Linked DNA regions of Homo sapiens: all the other regions are linked to region 1. The links come from fine-mapping of genetic effects on gene expression. A gene starts in region 1. Each other region holds a variant in brackets. All regions are shown on one strand. Distances are between the middles of the regions.

Region 1 (5,000 bases):
TGAGATCTTGCAACCTGTTCTTTCAATGTTTTAATAACTTTTCTGCAAATTGTCATCATTTGTTTTACAAGAAGATAGTTTAAAGTATATTTTATAAAATAAGTCTGAGGGAAATTAAAATTATGCCAAAGCCTCTTTTGCCAGGATTAACAGTTCACTCTTACATTTTGGGTCTATAGATATGCAGGATGGAGGTTGGGCCTGGTGGCTCATGCCTGTAATCCTAGCGCTTTGGGAGGCCAAAGTGGGAGGAATGATTGAAGCCAGGAGGTCGAGACCAGCCTGAGCAACATAGCAAGACTCCAACTCTAAAAAAAAAAATTAGCTGGGCATGGTGGCATGCGCCTGTAATCCCAACTACTCAAAAAGCTGGAACAGGAGGATCTCTTGAGCCCAGGAGTTCAAGGCTACAGTGAGCCATGATTGTGCCACTGCACTCCATCCTGGGTGACAGAGCAAGACTCTGTCTCCTAAAGAAAAAAAAATTACCTAAATTCTAATATAGGTCTGTTCTGAATCACAGCTCCACTCTATAAGTTCAGTTTGGCAAGCGGCCAAGAACACAGTTGTGAGTGGCACCCACACCAGGGTTCTAATCCTGGCTTTACACTTAAGAGCTCTGTGAGCTTGGGAACCAAGCAGGGTGACCCTGAACCTCAGCTTTGTCATAGGGAAATGAGGACTGTAATCCCAGTCCCATAAAGATGCAGGGAGGATTTCATCAAAGGAATTCATAATAAAATGTCTGGCACATTGTAAGTTCTAAAAACCTGCAGATGTTACCATTCCCTCCTAGTACTATCATGTCTTATATGTGCATAGTGACTCATACTCCACAAGGTGCTTTCAGATCTTTTGCCTCATTTAATCCTCAGGCAATGCGATCAGTACAAAAGGCAGTAATTACTACCCCCATTTTTCTTTTATCTTTTTTGTAAACAGATGAGAAAACAGGCTCAAAGTCAAAGAGCCCGAAAAGCGGGTATCTTGTCCACGGTTCTTTTTGCTCTGTGGCACAGAACTGAACCTCAGAGGACTTCATGTACCATGCCGAGCACAGGAGAACTACATGTGTTTTTAAATGCCCTACTATTCCTGCATTAATCAAATCAAACTGGTATTCTCACATTACTCCCAATTATTTAGATTTTGCCTAGGAAAAATAGCAACTAAGGTTTTTTGAGAGTGCACTGGGTATTTCAGGCATTGGGCGAGGTGCTTCACTTCCACCATCACAGTTAAACCGCATAACAACCCTATGAAGCAGGTACTGTCATAGTCTCCTGCATGTCCAGGATTGACATGCAGGCAGACTGTCTCCAAACCCCAGTTCCTATGGTCCTAGTGCTGTCCAATTCAAATTTGTCCAGTTGATGATAACACTTTGCAAATTGATTTCCCATACAACAAACCTAACGACACATGGAGGCCAGGCTATGAGTGTTCTCCTTTACATTTCAGGAGACTGAGGCTCTGAGAGGTTAAGCGACTGACCCAGCCCTGTCCTCACCCAGCAAGAACACAAGGCAGCACTCCCTAACTCCAAATCTCACTGTCTTTGGAAAACCTCACATTTTAAGAGTGAGAAGGTAGAAGTCCTGTCATTGTTGAAAAACAACCATCCACAATCATCACTAAGAGTTGACAGCGAGACCCGCGCTCCAGGCGGTGGAAACCGAGCAGTCTCCGGCTTGGGCCATCCCCGTTACTGTAGCCAAGTAGGAAGTGGGCGGTGACACTGATTTCAGAGCAGCCCCTAGGGAAGGCACAGGCACCAGTTCCTGGTCCCGCTCCCAGCCTCCTCCCTCCAGGTCCCCGAAGGGGTGGAACCCGAGATCCAGCTGGGTCTTGGGGTTAAGGCGGGCGGGACGTCCCCTGTCCCGAGGGGGCGCAGGCTGGGGCGCACCGCAACGAGAGTGCAGGCGGCGCAGGTGTCCCAGGACGGGGACGGATCCAAACCCCAAGCACGCCTCTGCAACCTTTCCCGGTCACCTGGACACGCAGCGGGGGCGCGGGTCAGACTCCTACAGTTTCGCAAACTGCGGGTCCCGGGGATCGCTGCACAGTCCTGGGTCAGGGACCTGGCCCGGCTCGGCGCTGGTGCCGGGCTGGCAGCCCAAGACTCGCTCTTCTCTCAACCTCGCACGCCTCGCGTCCTGCCTCAGTTTCCCTCACCTCGAAAGGGGTTGTTAACAGAGGCACGCCCTGACCTACGCGACTTCCTGGGGGCCAGAGCGCGCCCTCCTTGCCAGGACCCCCCCAGGACGTGCTAGGACTCTGTGGCAGCTCCCCTACCTGCGCGGTGGCTCACGCCGCCGCCGCCGGCGGCGGCTGGGGCGCCCTGAGGACCCCCGCCTGGCATGCGCCCCGCTGCCAGCTCCTCCCGCTCCGCCTGGGCTGCCTCCTGCTCCTTCCCCGAGGCCAGAGGCGGGGGGAAGGGAGCAGCGCGCTGGACGGGAAGTGGGGAGGGGGCTGGCGACGAAGGGGGCGGCTCCTTTCTTCTCCTCAGCGAGTCCGCTGTTTCCTTTCCAGCATTGGCCCCTGACGCGCGCGCGCGCGCGCACACACACACACACAGACATACACACACACGCTGCTGGAGCGGGCGGGGCCAGCGGCCCTCACAGCCTGTCTCCGGGATCTCAGGACCTCAGAAAGTTTGCTTTCACTCTGACTCATTTCTGGAAGAAACAAGAGGGGAAGTGCAGGAAGCCTCCAGGATGGGGTACAGGAGGGCGCCTTCCAGACGCATGATTTAAGAAGTGACCACACAGTGATGGAGAAGATGGAGGGATGTGAGGGGCTCATTTATACAAAGTGGGGGCGGGGGGGAGGAGTGGGGATAACTGATGACCCTGGAAAGAGATGAGTGGGAGCAGATGTTTAGAAATGAGATAGGATTCCAACTTCTAGCATCTTCCAGCAGCTCCGGGCTGGTTCCAGGACACAGAAGTCCATGCAAGCTCCTAGGCAACTGACTCCCCCCTTCACCCCTTCTCTTTGGTTCATTCAAGGAAGCTACTGGAGCACCCCCTAGGTAGCACCTGCTATAGGACAATGGGTACAAGGAAGGGCTACACATGAGCTCTTTGCCCTTAAGCAGCTCACCTCCAGGCTAGAAGGAGAGCACGTGCATAGAAAACGAAATCACAACATGAGATAGAATGTGCCATGTGCCAGAGGCTTGGCACAAAACCTCTTGCAATGGTTCAGGGATAGGAGGGAGAACTGTGAAGAAGAAGGGTTGGGGAGACGTTCTGCAGGAATGGGAAGGATCTCCTTAGAACGAGAGGAGTTAGAACTAGAGGAAGGCTGAGGTCCTTCAAAAGCTGAAGATCTTAAGACTGAAAGCACACAGTTGTACTTAAAATCAGTGTGTTTGCCCGGCATGGTAGTGCACTCCTGTAGTCCCAGCTACTCGGCAGGCTTAGGTGGGAGGATTGCTTGAGTCCAGGAGTTCAAGGCTTCAGTGAGCTATGATGGGGCCACTGCACTCCAGCCCAGGTGACAGAGAGAGACCCCCCACACCCCCACCACATCTCTAAAAATAAATAAATGTATGAATATCTAAGGCCAGGCACTTTGGGAGGCCAAGGTGGAAGTTCACTTGAGTCCAGAAGTTTGAGATCAGCCTGGGCAACATAATAAGAACCTCTTTTTTTTTTTTAACTTTTAAGTTCAGTTTGTTACATAGGTAAACTTGTGTCATGGGTGTTTGTTGTACAGAGTATTTTGTCACCCAGGTATTAAGCCTAGTGCTCATTAGTTGTTTTTCTTGATCCTCGCCCTTCTCCTACCCTCCGCCCTCCAAAAGGCACCAGTGTGTGCTGTTCCCCTCTATGCGTCCATGTGTTCTCATCATTTATCTCCCACTTATAAGTGAGAACATGCAGTGTTTGGTTTTCTGTTCTTGTGTTAGTTTGCTAAGAATAATGGCCTCCAGCTCCATCCATGTCCCTGCAAAAGACATGATCTCATTCTTTTTTATGGCTGCATAGTATTCTATGGTATATATGTACCATATTTTTTTATCCAGCCTATCATTGATGGGCATTTAGATTGATTCCATATATTTGCCGTTGTGAATAGTGCTGCAGTGAACATGTGTGTGCATGTGTCTTTATAATAGAATTATTTATATTCCTTTGGGTGTATACCCAGTCATACGATTGTTGGGTCAAACAATATTTCTGTCTTTGGGTCTTTGAGGAATCACCACACTGTCTTCCACAATAGCTGAACTAATTTACACTCCCACCAACAGTGTAAAAGTGTTCCTTTTTCTCCACAACTTCTCCAGCATCTGTTATTTTTTGACTTTTTAGTAATACCCATTCTGACCGGTGTTAGGTGGTATTTCATTGTGGTTTTGATTTGCATTTATCTGATAATCAGTGATGTTGAGCTTTTTTTATATGAATGTTGTCCACATATATGTCTTCTTTTGAAAAGTGTCTGTTCATGTCCCTTGCTCACTTTTTAATGGGGTTGTTTGGTTTTTTCTTGTAAATATAAGTTCCTTATAAGATGCTGGATATTAGATCTTTGTTAGATCACAGTTTGCAAAATTGTTTTCCCATTCTGTAGGTTGTCTGTTTACTCTGTTGATAGTTTCTTTTGCTGTTCAGAAGCTCTTTAGTTTAATTAGATCCCAGTTGTCAATTTTTGCTTTTGGCATCTTTGTCGTGAAATCTTTGCCCATGCCTATGTCCTGAATGGTATTGCCTAGGTTGTCTTGCAGGGATTTTATAGTTTTGGGTTTTACAATTAAGTCTTTAATACATCTTTAGTTAACTTTGTATAAACTGTAAGGTAGAGGTCCAGTTTCAATCTTCTGCATATGACTAGCCAGTTATCCCATCACCATTTAGGAAATTCTTTACCCATTGCTTGTCAAAACCCTTTCTATAAAGAAAAAAAAAATTAATTAGCCAGCACAGTGGCCTGTACCTGTAGTCCCAGCTACTTGGGAGGCTGAAGCAGGAGGATCACTCTAGCTC
Region 2 (5,000 bases), 210 kb before region 1:
CGCTTGGTGTTTAATCACACGGGGATGTCTGCATGATTATTCACCCACGTTTCAGAGGTGTCTGACCATGCAGGGACGCCTGCCTTGGTCCTTCACCGTTAGTGGCAAGTACAGCTTTTCTAGGGGGCAAGAACCCCCCATCCCTTCTCTCCGTGTCTCTACTCTCTCTTTTCTCTGGGCTTGCCTCCTTCACTATGGGCAAGCTTCTGCCCCCCATTGCCCCCTTCTTCTCCCTTAGCCTGTGTTCTTAAAAACCTAAAACCTATTCAACTTACACCTGACCTAAAACCTAAATGCCTTATTTTCTTCTGCGATGCCGCTTGACCCCAATGCAAACTCGACAGTGGTTCCAAATAGCCAGAAAACGGCACGTTCAATTTTTCCATCCTACAAGATCTAAATAATTCTTGTCATAAAATGGGCAAACGGTCTGAGATGCCTGACGTCCAGACATTCTTTTACACATCGGTCCCTCCCTAGTCTCTGTTCCCAGTACAACTCATCCCAAATCTTCCTTCTTTCCCTCCTGCCTGTCCCCTCAGTCCCAACCCCAAGCGTCGCTAAGTCTTTCTAATCTTCCTTTTCTACAGACCCATCTGACCTCTCCCCTCCTCACCAGGCCAAGCTAGGTCCAAATTCTTCCTCGGCCTCCACTCCTCCACCCTATAATCCTTTTATCACCTCTCCTCCTTACACCCGGTCTGGCTTACAGTTTCGTTCCATGACTAGCCCTCCCCCACCTGCCCAGCAATTTCCTCTTAAAAAGGTGGCTGGAGCTAAAGGCATAGTCAAGGTTAATGCTCCTTTTTCTTTATCCCAAATCAGATAGTGTTTAGGCTCTTTTTCAGCAACTATAAAAACCCAGCCCAGTTCATGGCTCGTTTGGCAGCAACCCTGAGACACTTTACAGCCCTGGACCCTAAAAGGTCAAAAGGCCGTCTTATTCTCAAAATACATTTTATTACCCAATCTGCTCTGGACATTAAATAAAACTCCAAAAATTAAATTCCAGCCCTCAAACCCCACAACAGGACTTCATTAACCGTGCCTTCAAGGTGTACAATAATAGAGTAGAGGCAGCCAAGTAGCAACATATTTCTGAGTTGCAATTCCTTGCCTCCACTGTGAGACAAACCCCAGCCACATCTCCAGCACACAAGAACTTCCAAATGCCTAAACCGCAGTGACCAGGAGTTCCTCCAGGCCTGCCTCCCCCAGGAGCTTGCTACAAGTGCCAGAAATCTGGCCACCAGGCCAAGGAATGCCCGCAGCCCAGGATTCCTCCTAAGCCGCGTCTCATCTGTGCGGGACTCCACTGAAAATCGGACTGTTCAACTCACCTGGCAGCCACTCCCAGAGCCCCTGGAACTCTGGCCCAAGGCTCTCTGACTGACTCCTTCCCAGATCTTCTCAGCTTAGCAGCTGAAGACTGACACTGCCAAATCGCCTTGGAAGCCCCCTAGACCATCATGGATGCCGAGATTTGGGTAACTCTCACAGTGGAGGGTAAGTCCTTCCCCTTCTTAATCAATATGGAGGCTACCCACTCCACATTACCTTCTTTTCAAGGGCCTGTTTCCCTTGCCTCCATAACTGTTGTAGATATTGACGGCCAGGCTTCTAAACCTCTTAAAACTCCCCAACTCTGGTGCCAACTTTGACAATACTCTTTTAAGCACTCCTTTTTAATTGTCCCCACCTGTCCAGTTCCCTTATTAGGCTGAGACACTTTAACTAAATTATCTGCTTCCCTGACTATTCCTGGACTACAGCTGAATCTCATTGCCGCCCTTCTTCCCAATCCAAAGCCTCCTTTGCGTCCTCCTCTTGTATCCCCCCACCTTAACCCACAAGTATAAGATACCTCTACTCCCTCCTTGGTGACCGATCATGCACCCCTTACCATCTCATTAAAACCTAATCACCCTTAGCCTGCTCAATGCCAATATCCCATCCCACAGCACTCTTTAAAATGATTAAAGCCTGTTATCACTCACCTGTTACAGCATGGCCTTTTAAAGCCTATAAACTCTCCTTATAATTCCCCCATTTTACCTGTCCTAGAACCAGACAAGCCTTACAGGTTAGTTCAGGATCTGCGCCTTATCAATGAAATTGTTTTGCCTATCCACCCTGTGGTGCCAAACCCATATACTCTCCTATCCTCAATACCTCCCTCCACAGCCCATTATTCTGTTCTGGATCTCAAACATGCTTTCTTTACTATCCCTTTGCACCCTTCATCCCAGCCTCTCTTCGCTTTCACTTAGACTGACCCTGACACCCATTAGGCTCAGCAAATTACCTGGGCTGTACTGCCACAGGGCTTCACAGACAGCCCCCATTACTTCAGTCAAGTCCAAATTTCATCCTCATCTGTTACCTATCTCGGCATAATTCTCATAAAAACACACATGCTCTCCCTGCTGATCATGTCTGACTAATCTCCCAAACCTCAATCCCTTACAAAACAACAACTCCTTTCCTTCCTAGGCATGGTTAGTGAGGTCAGAATTCTTACACAAGAGCCAGGACC[G/A]CACCCTGTAGCCTTTCTGTCCAAACAACTTGACCTTACTGTTTTAGCCTAGCCCTCATGTCTGCGTGCAGCGGCTGCCGCTGCTTTAATACTTTTAGAGGCCCTCAAAATCACAAACTATGCTCAACTCACTCTCTACAGTTCTCATAACTTCCAAAATCTATTTTCTTCCTCACACCTGAGGCATATACTTTCTGCTCCCTGGCTCCTTCAGCTGTGCTCACTCTTTGTTGAGTGTCCCACAATTACCACTGTTCCTGGCATGGACTTCAATCCAGCCTCCCACATTATTCTGGATACCACACCTGACCCTCATGACTGTATCTCTCTGATCCACCTAACATTCACCCCATTTCCCCATATTTCCTTCTTTCCTGTTCCTCACCCTGATCACATTTGGTTTATTGATGGCAGTTCCACCAGGCCTAATCGCCACTCACCAGCAAAGGCAGGCTATGCTATAGTAGCTTCCACATCTATCATCAAGGCTACCACTCTGCCCACCCCCCCCCACTACCTCTCAGAAAGCCGAACTAGTTGCCTTAACTCAAGCCCTCACTCTTGCAAAAGGACGACACGTCAATATTTATACTGACTCTAAATATGCCTTCCATATCATACACCACCATGTGGTCACATGGGCTGAAAGAGGTTTCCTCACTACGCAAGGGTCCTCCATCATTAATGCCTCTAATAAAAACTCTGCTCAAGGCGGCTTTACTTCCAAAGGAAGCTGGAGTCATTCACTGCAAAGGCCATCAAAAGGCGTCAGATCCCATTGCTCTAGGCAACGCTTATGCTGATAAGGTGGCTAGACAAGCAGCTAGCTCTCCAACTTCTGTCCCTCACGGCCAGTTTTTCTCCTTCACATCAGTCATTCCCACCTACTCCCCTGCTGAAACTTCCACCTATCAGTCTCTTCCCACACAAGGCAAATGGTTCTTAGACCAAGGAAAATATCTCCTTGCAGCCTCACAGTCCCATTCTATTCTGTTGTCATTTCATAACCTCTTCCACATAGGTTACAAGCTGCTACCCTGTCTCTTAGAATCTCTCATTTCCTTTCCATCCTGGAAATCTATCCTCCAGGAAATCACTTCTCAGTGTTCCATCTGCTATTCTACTACCCCTTGGGGATTGTTCAGGCCTCCTCCCTTCCCTACACATCAAGCCCGGGGATTTGCCCCTGCCCAGGACTGGCAAATTGACTTTACTCACATGCCCCAAGTCAGAAAATTAAAATACCTCTTAGCCTGGGTAGCCATTTCACTGGATGGGTAGAGGCCTTTCCTACAGGGTCCGAGAAGGCCACTGCAGTCATTTCTTCCCTTCTGTCAGACATAATTCCTCAGTTTAGCCTTCCCACCTCAATACAGTCTGATAACAGACGAGCCTTTATTAGTCAAATCAGCCAAGCAGTTTTTCAGGCTCTTAGTATTCAGTGAAACCTTTATATCCCTTACGGTCCTCCGTCTTCAGGAAAGGTAGAACAGACTAATGGTCTTTTAAAAACACACCTCACCAAGCTCAGCCACCAACTTAAAAAGGACTGGACAATACTTTTACCACTTTCCCTTCTCAGAATTCAGGCCTGTCCTCGGAATGCTACAGGGTACAGCCCATTTGAGCTCCTGTATGGACGCTCCTTTTTATTAGGCCCCAGTCTCATTCCAGACACCAGACCAACTTGGACTGTGCCCCAAAAAACTTGTCATCCCTACTATCTTCTGTCTAGTTATACTCCTATTCACCATTCTCAACTACTCATACATGCCCTGCTCTTGTTTACGCTGCCGGTTTACACTGTTTTTCCAAGCCATCACAGCTGATATCTCCTGGTGCTATCCCCAAACTGCCGCTCTTAACTTTTGAAGTAAATAAATAATCTTTGCTGGCAGGACTATGCTGAATCTCCTTAGGCACTCTCTAATTAGATGTCCTAGGTCCTCCCAATTCTTAGACCTTTAATACCTGTTTTTCTCCTTCTCTTATTCCATTTAGTTTTTCAATTCATACAAAACCATATCCAGGCCATCACCAATAATTCTAAATGACAAATGTTTCTTCTAACAACCGCACAATATCACCCTTTACCACAAAATCTTCCTTCAGCTTAATATCTCCCACTCTAGGTTCCCATGCCGCCCTAATCCCGCTCGAAGCAGCCCTGAGAAACATCGCCCATTATCTCTCCATACCACCTCCAAAACTTTTCACCATCCCAACACTTTACCACCATTTCATTTTATTTTTCTTATTAATATAAGAAGACAGGAATGTCAGGCCTCTGAGCCCAAGCTAAACTATCATATCCCCTGTGACCTGCACGTACACATCCAGATGGCCAGTTCCTGCCTTAACTGATGACATTCCACCACAAAAGAAGTGAAAATGGCCTGTTCCTGCCTTAACAGATGACATTATCTGGTGAAATTCCTTCTCCTGGCTCATCCTGGCTCAAAAG
Region 3 (5,000 bases), 400 kb before region 1:
CCTCTCTTTCTCTCTCTCTTTCTCCCTTCCTTCCTTCCTCTCTCTCTGTCTCTCCTTTCTCCCTTCCTTCCTTCCTGTTCTCTCTCTCTCTCTCCTCTCTCCCTCCTTCCTTCCTTCCTTCCCTCCCTCCTTCTTTGGCAGTGTCTTACTTTGTTGCCCAGGCTGGAGTGTAGTAGTGTGCAGTCTCAGCTCACTGCGACCTCCACCTCCTGGGTTCAAGCAATTCTCACGCCTCTGGAGTAGCTGGGACTACAGGTGTGCACCATCACGCCCAGTTAATTTTTGTATTTTTAATAGAGACAGGGTTTTGCCATGTTGCCTAGGCTGGTCTCAAACTCCTGGTCTCAAACAATCCATCCACCTCAGCCTCCCAAAGTGCCGGGATTAAGATGTAAGCCACCGCACCTGGCCAGGCTCTGGATTTTCTTATCTATAAACTACATGAGTGGAGCTCCATGATCCTCATGATCCCTCTTCCAGCCCCTCAGCTCTAGAAGTGGAAAACATCTCCAAGGAGGCAGGACAGTCTCCCAAAACTCTCGTTACCTTTGTCTGTTCACGCTAAAATTTGGAAAGTTGAACTAAACAAGGGTCCTACGGAGCTGTGGTATTTGTGCACAAACCTGGATGTATTTAGAGCATGCCCTCAAGCACCACCAAAACTAAACAATTGGGCACCATGCACTCCAAATAACCAGAGAAACAGAATTCCATAAGGGCTTCCCAGACATGGATGTAAATACAACCACAAATAGAATCAGAGTGTCTCTACCTCGTCTATGACTGAGGGCCAGGCAGAACTGCCCTGAGGGCTTTGAAATATGCCAAAAATGTACATATCACAGGTGTACTTCTTTTCCTTTGAAAGTGTGTTGTAGAAATTGAAGGAGGAAGAAAATGAGAAAATTCCTGCTTAAAAATCCACCTTAATTTGGAAGGCTTTTGGTTACAATATTTTGAGCGTGGAGGAGACCTTGCACACAGTCAAAATGTTTTTCAAAACATACTGCTAATTAGGACCCCAGATGACTGTGAAAATGCACTAGAGACTCACACTAATGCTCCTGGAAGTCCCGACTTGACTGGCCGTGAAGTCACACCTCCTGTCCCCTTCTCAGGCACTAGGCGTGAGCCACCTCTCCACCACCAGCTCTCCCAATTAATGGTGCAGACTGTTTTCAGACACTCGCTGCCACAGTAGCTGATGGGTTTGTGTTGTTCTTTGGTCATGCTACATGTAATTTGGTGAGCCTGTCAGGACGATGAAGAGGCAAAGGCTCTTTCCTCTCCCTCCTTGGATTGGTCAATCAGTGTCTTCTTAATAAAAGTAGGAGACACCCATGAGGCTGCCCATAACTCGGATATTAAATCAGGAGGCCACAAGGACCTATTTGGAAACTCAGTCCCACTGCCCACCCCTAACCTCTGTTGATGCCACACTAATAGCCCTTATGTACACACATGGTTTATGCAAAAACTGAGTGTTTTCCACACAAAGAATAAACATCCATGGTAGCATCTGTGGCTTGAATCTTTCAGACGTGGACGTCCAATGTGGGCTTACATTAATCACATTCCAATGTGGACTTAGATTAATTGGGTACCTCACATGCACAGTAGGCTCTGGCAGCATGCTTAATGGAATCAAACAAAACACTGCACTCACTGTGCAATCCTTCTGTATTGTTGACAACAAGCTGTTTCTTTCAGCCACACTCAGCATTGTATCTTTGATCAAACATGGAAATACAAACCAGTCAGAGTTTGGCTGGAGGATTCTGGCAGCCTCTCTGAATCTCTAGATAAGCTCTAATTTGAAACAACGGCTTTGGTTTGTGTAGGGGAGCCTCCGTAGAGCCTTGTAAACATGTCTTTCTATCTTAGGGCATAATGTTCCACTCAAATTTAAGTGCTGCTTTGTATGAATTCAAAGACACCTTCTGTGTATTTATTCTCAATCAGTGACAGAAGACTGGGATTCGAAGAAAAGTCTGGGTTGAAATCCATATCGTGGTGTAGATTTTATTGGAGGGAGGGAGAGAGCTGACTTCAGTACCTAAACCAGTGCTTCTCCGCTTATCACAACAGAGATCAGTGAAATTCTCAAAAAACATAACATCAGTGAAATACTTTTATTATAGCTTAAAAATTTAAAGTAATTGTGTGTTCCATGGAACAGACCTGTCCATTTACTTATAGGCAATGGCTGCTTTCTGATGGGCCTAATAGGACCATGGGGCTTGTGGCTGAAAAGTTCTGCTACTCATCAGAAATGACCTTGTGTCAGCCAAGTTGTTCCCAAGCCTTGTTTTTTTCGACTGTCAAGTAGGGATAATAATCCCTATCCATTTATAGAAGTTTTATTATAATTAAATGACTTTTCATCTAAGCCACTGTGGAGTTACTGATTGATTCCTTCAAGCATTTATTACAAAATAGTTGAATCAATCTACCTTGAAACTTTTTGTGTATAAATGGGATGTTCTTGGAGCTTGTGACTAATATACTAAGAACTGTGAGACAAATGGACTTGGATAACACTTTTCTACCTAAAATCATGCACTTACCCATGGCTATATTAAATGTACATTATGAATATAGCCTTATTTAACCCCCATAAAAACCTTAGAGGTGTATGTTATCCTGACATTACAGATGGGAACCCTAATGCTTAAAGAGGCATTATCACTTGTCCATGATCCCGCTGCTATTAAATCTGGCTTGGATCAGCTGTGGAAAAACTAAAAGGATCTTGTTTAAATACTGCTTAACCCCTTGTTTTTCAGGGGTCTTTACTAGAGCTGCCTCCCCAGCTCTAGTAAAAATAAGATCCAATTCCCCAGAATCAAACTAACCTTTTAGAAAATTTCACAATAAGAGACCAG[T/C]ACAGAACCCTGACTGCAGCCCTCAGAACTGCTACCTGAAGACAGAGGTACAACCCACTTAGGAACTGCCCATCTGCTGAGCTGGGGAACGGGAACCCCTTCATATCCATTGACTCTCTGCAGCGGACTCCTCCTCTGTGCCCCATCACCTGCCCATTTGCTGGAAGCCATACCCCCTTACACGTGCTCAAAGATTTGTGATCCCATGAACATGGAATAAATAAAAACGCCATCCTTATTCTATGTTTGTATGCTTCTTTGGGAAACTTTCTGATAATAGCTTAAATACAAGATTTTTAAGAGGCAGGAAATTATGAAGAACAGAATATCTGCTTTTCAAAATCTACCTAAAGCAATGTGAAAATCATTGCAGATTAAGTTGAAGAAATTTTCTGCCCAGCTTAATAAACAAGGTCAAAAATGTAAAGTTATAACAAGGAAGGAAGTGTAGCATTGGCTCTATCATTAAATCACAGATCTGAGTATTTATGACTAAGATTAATCCTTGGCCATTCAAAGCTACTTATACACACACACACACACACACACACACACACACACACAGCCCATAAAGTATGGTAAAAACTGGAATTCTAAAAAGTAAGACAGCAATGACAAGCAAAGACCAAAATAGCTAAATTTGCCACAAACGCATCTAATAAAAGACATTCTACTGAATAGAAAGATGAATGAATAGGGAAGTGTTTTTAGCTAGAGAAGTGTCAACTTGTGATTAAATAACTGAAAGGATATAGGGCTGCATATCCCTTCATCCACTGGGTACCCACCCATTTGCTCTCAGCAGAACTAACCAGTGACAAACTGCGTCCACAGATCAACACAGAATGGAGTGCTTCATACGGATGCATACCTAAGCCAGTATGTTCTCAGGCCATCTTGCTCACTAGCAGCTAGTTTTGATGAAGGTGTTTGTAGGTGTGACACCAAGGATATTAAGTCTGGTGCAAGAAATTCTATCACCGGGAAGCAGAAAGGACTAAATTGAGTTCAACCATGTGTATATGGTTAGAAGTTGAAAGGAAATAATCTAAAGTCCTGTTTGCTTTGTTACTGTACTGCCCATTACTAGGTAGAGTTGCTAGATAAAGAAATTCAGAGGTGGATTTAGGACGCTTGGTATTGAAAAAGCTCGTAGGAAAACGAGCCAGTCAACTGTTTTCCTTCACCAGGGCCACACAGAGCTGGATTTACACTCACTTGAAACTGCATTTTCTTTGGCTTCCTCGTGTGCATGTCTGAACTTAATTGTTAGTGGTTGGATTTAGCAATTAAAAATACTGAATTGCGGCCGGATGCGGTGGCCCAAGCCTGTAATCCCAGCACTTTGGGAGGCCAAGGCGGGCGGATCACTTGAGGTCAGGAGTTCTAGACCAGCCTGGCAAACATGGCAAAACCCTCTCTCTACTAAAAATACAAAAAAATTAGCTGGGCGTGCTGGCGGGCACCTGTAATCCCAGCTACTCAGGAGGCTGAGGCAGGAGAACCGTTTGAACCCAGGAGGTGGAGGCTGCAGTGAGCTGAGATCACACCATTGCACTCCAGCCAAGGCATCAAAAAAAAAAAAAAAAAAAAAAGAAAAAAGAAAAAAAATACTGAATTGCTTACTGAAAACTAGAGCGAAAACATTTCATACCTGATAATCTCAGAGATCTGAGGTGCTCTGTGCTATAAATAACGGCAGCATCTATTTGTTGCCATCTTCTGAGGCATGAAAAACTACCCTTTAAAGACTCTCTTTTATAAAATAACTTTGCCTTGCTTCATCTGCAAGATGAAAAGGATATGAATGAGATCTTCATCATGACTGTGGATTGCTGTGTGAAGTTGATCTTCCAAGTACAATAGCTTCTTGCCTATGTCTTCACACTTTTCTCCAAGTTCTGCAGAAAGGATGTAAGATTCCTGGCGAGAGGGGGAAAACAAGATCACTTGTTAGTGCCGTGGACACAGACAGAACACAAAGGGAAGCTTCCTGGAAAGAGCTCTCCCAGTTTCTGCACCTCAGTCAGAATTGTGCTAGGGCCTGTGTCTCCCCTGGGTATCAAACTTGAGAAGTTGTGAACTGATTTCAAGTTATGACCAAAGAATGAGCTT
Region 4 (5,000 bases), 33 kb before region 1:
AATACAAATGGTCCAGATGAGGAAGGGCCCCCCACAATGCAGCACAGCTGCTTTGCCACACTGTGGCCAGATTGCTTCGTTAAGTGGGACCCCGATTCATTCCTCCTTACTGGGAGGGACCTCCCTGTGGGGGCTTCAGCCACGCCAACAAGGGTTCTATTAACAGAACTCTGACCTCTCCCTCGGATGCAGCTCCCAGGGGGAGAGGTGGCTGCCATCTCTGTGGTTCAGTGGACTCAACCATTCCAGCCTGCTGGCTTTGGAGAATGCAAACAGTCCAGATGAGGAAGGGTCTGCCACAATGCAGCACACCTCCTCAGACAAAAAGCAGCAAGACTCATCTTTAAATGGGTCCCTGATACCATTCCACCTGACTGGGTGAGACCTCCAAACAGGGGTCTCCAGCCACCTCTTACAGATATGTTCTGGCCAGCAACAGGTCAGTATCCCCCTGGCACAGAGCTTCCACAGGAAGGAGCTGGCAGCCATCTTTGCTGTTTTGCAGCCTTCACTGGTGATATCTCCAGGTACAGGAAAAACCAAGGCAACCAAGGTCTGGAGCAGACCCCCAGCAAACTGCAGCAGCCCTACGGTAGAGTGGCCTGACTATGAAAAGAAAAACAAACAGAAAACAACAACAACAAAAAGATCAACAAAAAGAATCCCACAAAACCCTATTGAAAGGCCAGCAACCTCAAAGATTGAAGGTAGATAAGCCCACAAAGATAAGCAAAGAATCAGTGCTGAAAACTCAAAAAGCCAGAGTGGCTCTTCTCCTCCAAATGACAGTAACACCTCTCCAGCAAGGGAACAGAACTGGGCTGAGGCTGAGATGACTGAACTGACAGAAGTAGACTTCAGAAGGTGGGTAATAACAAACTTCACTGAGTAAAAGGAGCATGTTGTAACCCAATGCAAAGAAGCTAAGAATCATGATAAAACAATACAGAAGCTGATAGCCAGAATAGCCAGTTTAGAGAGGAACATAACCAAGCTCATGGAGCTGAAAACACACAACACGAGAACCTCACAATGCAATCACAAGTATCAATAGCAGAATAGACCAAGTGGAGGAAAGAATTTCAGAGCTTAAAGACTATCTTTCTGAAATAAGACAGGCAGACAAGAATAGAGAAAAAAGAATGAAAAGGAATGAACAAAACCTCCAAGAAATATGGGATTCTATGAAGAGACCAAACCTCCAACTGATTGGGATACCTGAAAGGGACAGGGAGAATGGAACCAAGTTGGAAATCACACTTCAGGATATCATTCAAGAGAACTCACCCAACCTGGCAAGATAGGCCAATATTCAATTCAGGAAGTGCAGAGAACCCCAGTAGGATCCTCCATGAGAAGATCAACCCCCAGACACATAATCATCAGATTCTCCAGGTCGAAATGAAAAAAAAAAAGTGAAGGGCAGCCAGAAAGAAAGGCCAGGTCACCTACAACGGGAAGCCAATCAGACTAACTGAGGACCTCTCAATGGAAACCCTACAAGCCAGAAGAGATTGTGGGCCAATATTCTACAGTCTTAAAGAAAAGAATTTCCAACCCAAGATTTCATATCTGACCAAACTAAGGTTCATAAATGAAGGAGAAATAAGATCCTTTTCAGACAAGCAAAGGCTGAGAGAATTCATCACCACCAGGAAGCACTAAATATGGAAACGAAAAACTGTTACCAGCCACTACAAAAACACACTGAACTACACAGACCAGTGACACTATGAAGCAACTACATAAACAAGTCTGCAAAATAACCAGCTAGCATCATGATGACAGGATCAAATTCACATATAATAATACTAACCTTAAATATAAATGGGCTAGGCCAGGCACAGTGGCTCACACCTGTAATCCCAGCACTTTGGAAGCCTGAGGCAGGCAAATCACCTGAGGTCAAGAGTTCGAGACCAGCCTGGCCAACATGGTGAAACCCCATCTCTACTAAAAGATGGCAGGTGCCTGTAATCCCAGCTACTCGGGAGGCTGAGGCAGGAGAATCGCTTCACCCGGGAGGCAGAGGTTGCCGTGAGCTGGGACTGCACCATTGCACTCCAGCCTGGGTGACACAGAGTGAAATTCCATCTCAAAAAATATAAAATATATATATTTTTTTTTTGGGCTAAATGCCCCAATTAAAAGACACAGAATGGCAAGCTG[G/C]ACAGAGCCAAGACCCACTGGTGTGCTGTCTTCAAGAGACCCATCTCACATGCAAGACATACACAGGTTCAAAATAAAAGGATGAAGGAAAATTTACCAAGCAAATGGAAAACAGAAAAAAGTAGGGGTTGCAATCCTAATTTCTGACAAAACAAGACTTTAAGCCAACAAAGATCAAAAAATATAAAGAAGGGCATTAATAATGGTAAAGAGTTCAATTCAACAAGAGCTAACTATCCTAAATATATATGCATCCAATATAGGAGCACCCAGATTCATAAAGCAAGTTCTTCAAGAATGACACACTTAGACTACTTAGACTCCCACACAATAATAGTGGGAGACTTTAACAACCCACTGACAATATTAGACAAATCAAGACAGAAAATTAATAAAGATAGTAAGGACCTGAACTCAGCCCTGGATCAAGTGGATCTGATAGATATCTACAGAATTCTCCACCACAAAACAGCAGAATATACATTCTCCTCATTGACATATGGCACTTACTCTAAAACTGATCACATAATTGGAAATAAAACACTCCTCAGCAAATGCAAAAGAGCTGAAATCATAACAGTCTCTCAGACCACAGCACCATCAAATTAGAACTCAAGATTAAGAAATTCACTCAAAACCACACAACTACATGGAAACTGAACAACCTGCTCCTGAATGACTCTTGGGTAAATAATGAAATTAAGGCAGAAATCAATAAGTACTTTGAAACTAATGAGAACAAAGAGACAATGTCCTAGAATCTCTGGGACACAGGTAAAGTGGTGTTAAGAGGGAAATTTAGAGCATTAAATGCCCACATCAAAAGCTAGAAAGATCTCAAGTTAACAACCTAACATCTCAACTAAAGAACTAGAGAACCAAGAGCAAACAAACTCCAAAGCTAGAAGACAAGAAATAACCAGGATGAGGGCATAATAAGTGAAGAAGACAGAGACACAAAAAACCCTTCAAAAAAATCAACAAATCCAGAAACTGGTTTTTTGAAAAAAATAATAAAATAGATCACTTGCTAGACTAACAAAGAGGAAAAGAGAGAAGAATCAAATAGATACAATAGAAAATGTTAAGGGAGATATCACCACTAACCCCACAGAAATACAAACAACCATCAGAAAATACTGTAAACACCTCTATGCACATAGACTAAAAAATCTAGAAGAAATGGATAAATTCCTAGACACATACACCCTCCCAAGACTGAACCAGGAAGAAATTGAATCTCTGAATAGACCAATAATGAGTTCTGAAATTGAGACAGTAATAAATAGCTTACCAACCAAAAAAAGCCCAGGAACAGACAGATTCACAGCTGAATTCTACCAGAGGTACAAAGAAAAAGGGGTATCATTTTGACTGAAATTATTCCAAAAAATTGAAAAGGAGGGACTCATCCCCAATTTATTCTATGAGGCCAGCATCATCCTGATACCAAAACCTGGCAGAGATACAACAAAAAAAAAGAAAACCTCAGGCCGATATCCTTAATGAACATCAATGCAAAAACCTTCAATAAAATACTGACAAACTGAATGCAGCAGCACATCAAAAAGCTTATCCACTAGAATCAAGTTGGCTTCATCTCCAGGATACAAAGTTGGTTCAACATATGCAAATCAATAAATGTGATTCATCACATAAACAGAACTAAAGACAAAAACCACATGATTATCTCAATATATGCAGAAAAGGCCTTCGATAAAATCTGGCATCCCTTCATGTTAAAAATTCTCAATAAACTAGGTATTGAAGGAACATACCTCAAAATAATAAGAGCCATATATGACAAACCCACAGCCAATATCATACTGACTGGGCAAAAGCTGGAAGCATTCCCCTTGAAAAACAGCCCAAAACAAGATGTCCTCTCTCGCCACTCCTATTCAACATAGTATTGGAAGTTCTGGCCAGGGCAATCAGATAAGAGAACAAAATAAAGGGTGTTCAAATAGGAAGAGAGGAAGTCAAATTATCTTTGTTTGCAGATGACATGATCCTATATCTAGAAAACCCCATCATCTCAGCCCAAAAGCTTTTTAAGCTGATAAGCAACTTCAGCAGTCTCAGGATACAAAATCAATGTGCAAAAATTGCTAGCATTCCTACACACCAACAACAGGCAATCAAAGAGCCAAATCATAAATGAACTCCCATTCACAATTACTACAAAAAGAATAAAATAACTAGGAATACAGCTAACAAGGGAAGTGAAGGACCTCTTCAAGGAGAACTACAAACCATTGCTCAAAGAAATCGTACAGGACACAAACAAATGGAGAAACATTCCATGCTCATGAACAGGAAGAATCAATATCATGAAAATAGCCATACTGCCCAAAGCAATTTATAGATTCAATGCTATTCCCATTAAACTACCATTGACATTCTTCACAGAATTAGAAAAAACTATTTTAAAATTCATGTGGAACCAACAAATCCCAAATGGCCAAGACAATCATAATCAAAAAGAACAAAGCTGGAGGCATCATGGCTACCCAACTTCAAACTATACTGCAAGGCTACAGTAACCAAAACAGCAGGGTATTGGTACAGGAACAGACACATAGACCAATGGAACAGAATACAGAACTCAGAAATAAGACCCAACACCTACAACCATCTGATCTTCAACAAACTAGACAAAAACAAGCAATGGGGAAAGGACTCCATATTTAATAAATGGTGCTGAGAGAGCTGGCTAGCCATATGCAGAAAATTGAAACTGGACCCATCCCTTACACCTTAAGCAAAAATCAATTCAAGATGGATTAAAGACTTAAGTGTAAAACCCAAAACTATAAAAATGCTGCAAG

Alleles and levels. Alleles are on the strand shown, and positions count from the first base shown. SD is a standard deviation of normalised expression in the study named. Not every link is listed here.
For the expression in esophagus muscle of the gene that starts at base 2,440 in region 1, allele G in region 2 goes with a higher level than allele A (small effect, 0.26 SD a copy in GTEx).

The links. PIP is the estimated chance that this variant, and not a neighbour inherited with it, causes the effect.
Region 2: its variant is the best candidate, but not a certain one, in a credible set for the expression of DISC1 in esophagus muscle (GTEx, PIP 0.55).
Region 3: its variant is the best candidate, but not a certain one, in a credible set for the expression of DISC1 in whole blood (INTERVAL, PIP 0.82).
Region 4: its variant is the best candidate, but not a certain one, in a credible set for the expression of DISC1 in whole blood (INTERVAL, PIP 0.50).

Annotation. Positions count from the first base shown.
Region 1 is chr1:231,624,230-231,629,229 of GRCh38, reverse strand. DISC1 (DISC1 scaffold protein) reads right to left here and starts at 2,440. Exons shown (of 13, transcript NM_018662.3): 1 at 2,296-2,440. The coding sequence starts at 2,362. All of the region lies in intron 5 of TSNAX-DISC1 (TSNAX-DISC1 readthrough (NMD candidate)), which reads right to left. RefSeq lists silencers at 721-921, 1,895-1,954, 2,285-2,544.
Region 2 is chr1:231,829,898-231,834,897 of GRCh38, reverse strand. The region is part of intron 9 of DISC1 (DISC1 scaffold protein); the gene reads right to left. All of the region lies in intron 12 of TSNAX-DISC1 (TSNAX-DISC1 readthrough (NMD candidate)), which reads right to left. The region is part of intron 1 of LOC105373170 (a long non-coding RNA gene); the gene reads left to right. Among named protein-coding and RNA genes, the nearest start is that of DISC2, 14 kb to the right of the region's middle. RefSeq lists an enhancer at 3,029-3,539. The variant G/A (reference allele first, on the strand shown) is at 2,537.
Region 3 is chr1:232,026,243-232,031,242 of GRCh38, reverse strand. It overlaps DISC1 (DISC1 scaffold protein), which reads right to left. Exons shown (of 13, transcript NM_018662.3): 12 at 4,691-4,808. It overlaps TSNAX-DISC1 (TSNAX-DISC1 readthrough (NMD candidate)), which reads right to left. Exons shown (of 16, transcript NR_028393.1): 15 at 4,691-4,808. It overlaps LOC124904549 (a long non-coding RNA gene), which reads right to left and starts at 4,677. Exons shown (of 2, transcript XR_007066941.1): 1 at 1-4,677. The variant T/C (reference allele first, on the strand shown) is at 2,886.
Region 4 is chr1:231,657,590-231,662,589 of GRCh38, reverse strand. The region is part of intron 1 of DISC1 (DISC1 scaffold protein); the gene reads right to left. The region is part of intron 5 of TSNAX-DISC1 (TSNAX-DISC1 readthrough (NMD candidate)); the gene reads right to left. Among named protein-coding and RNA genes, the nearest start is that of DISC1, 33 kb to the right of the region's middle. The variant G/C (reference allele first, on the strand shown) is at 2,170.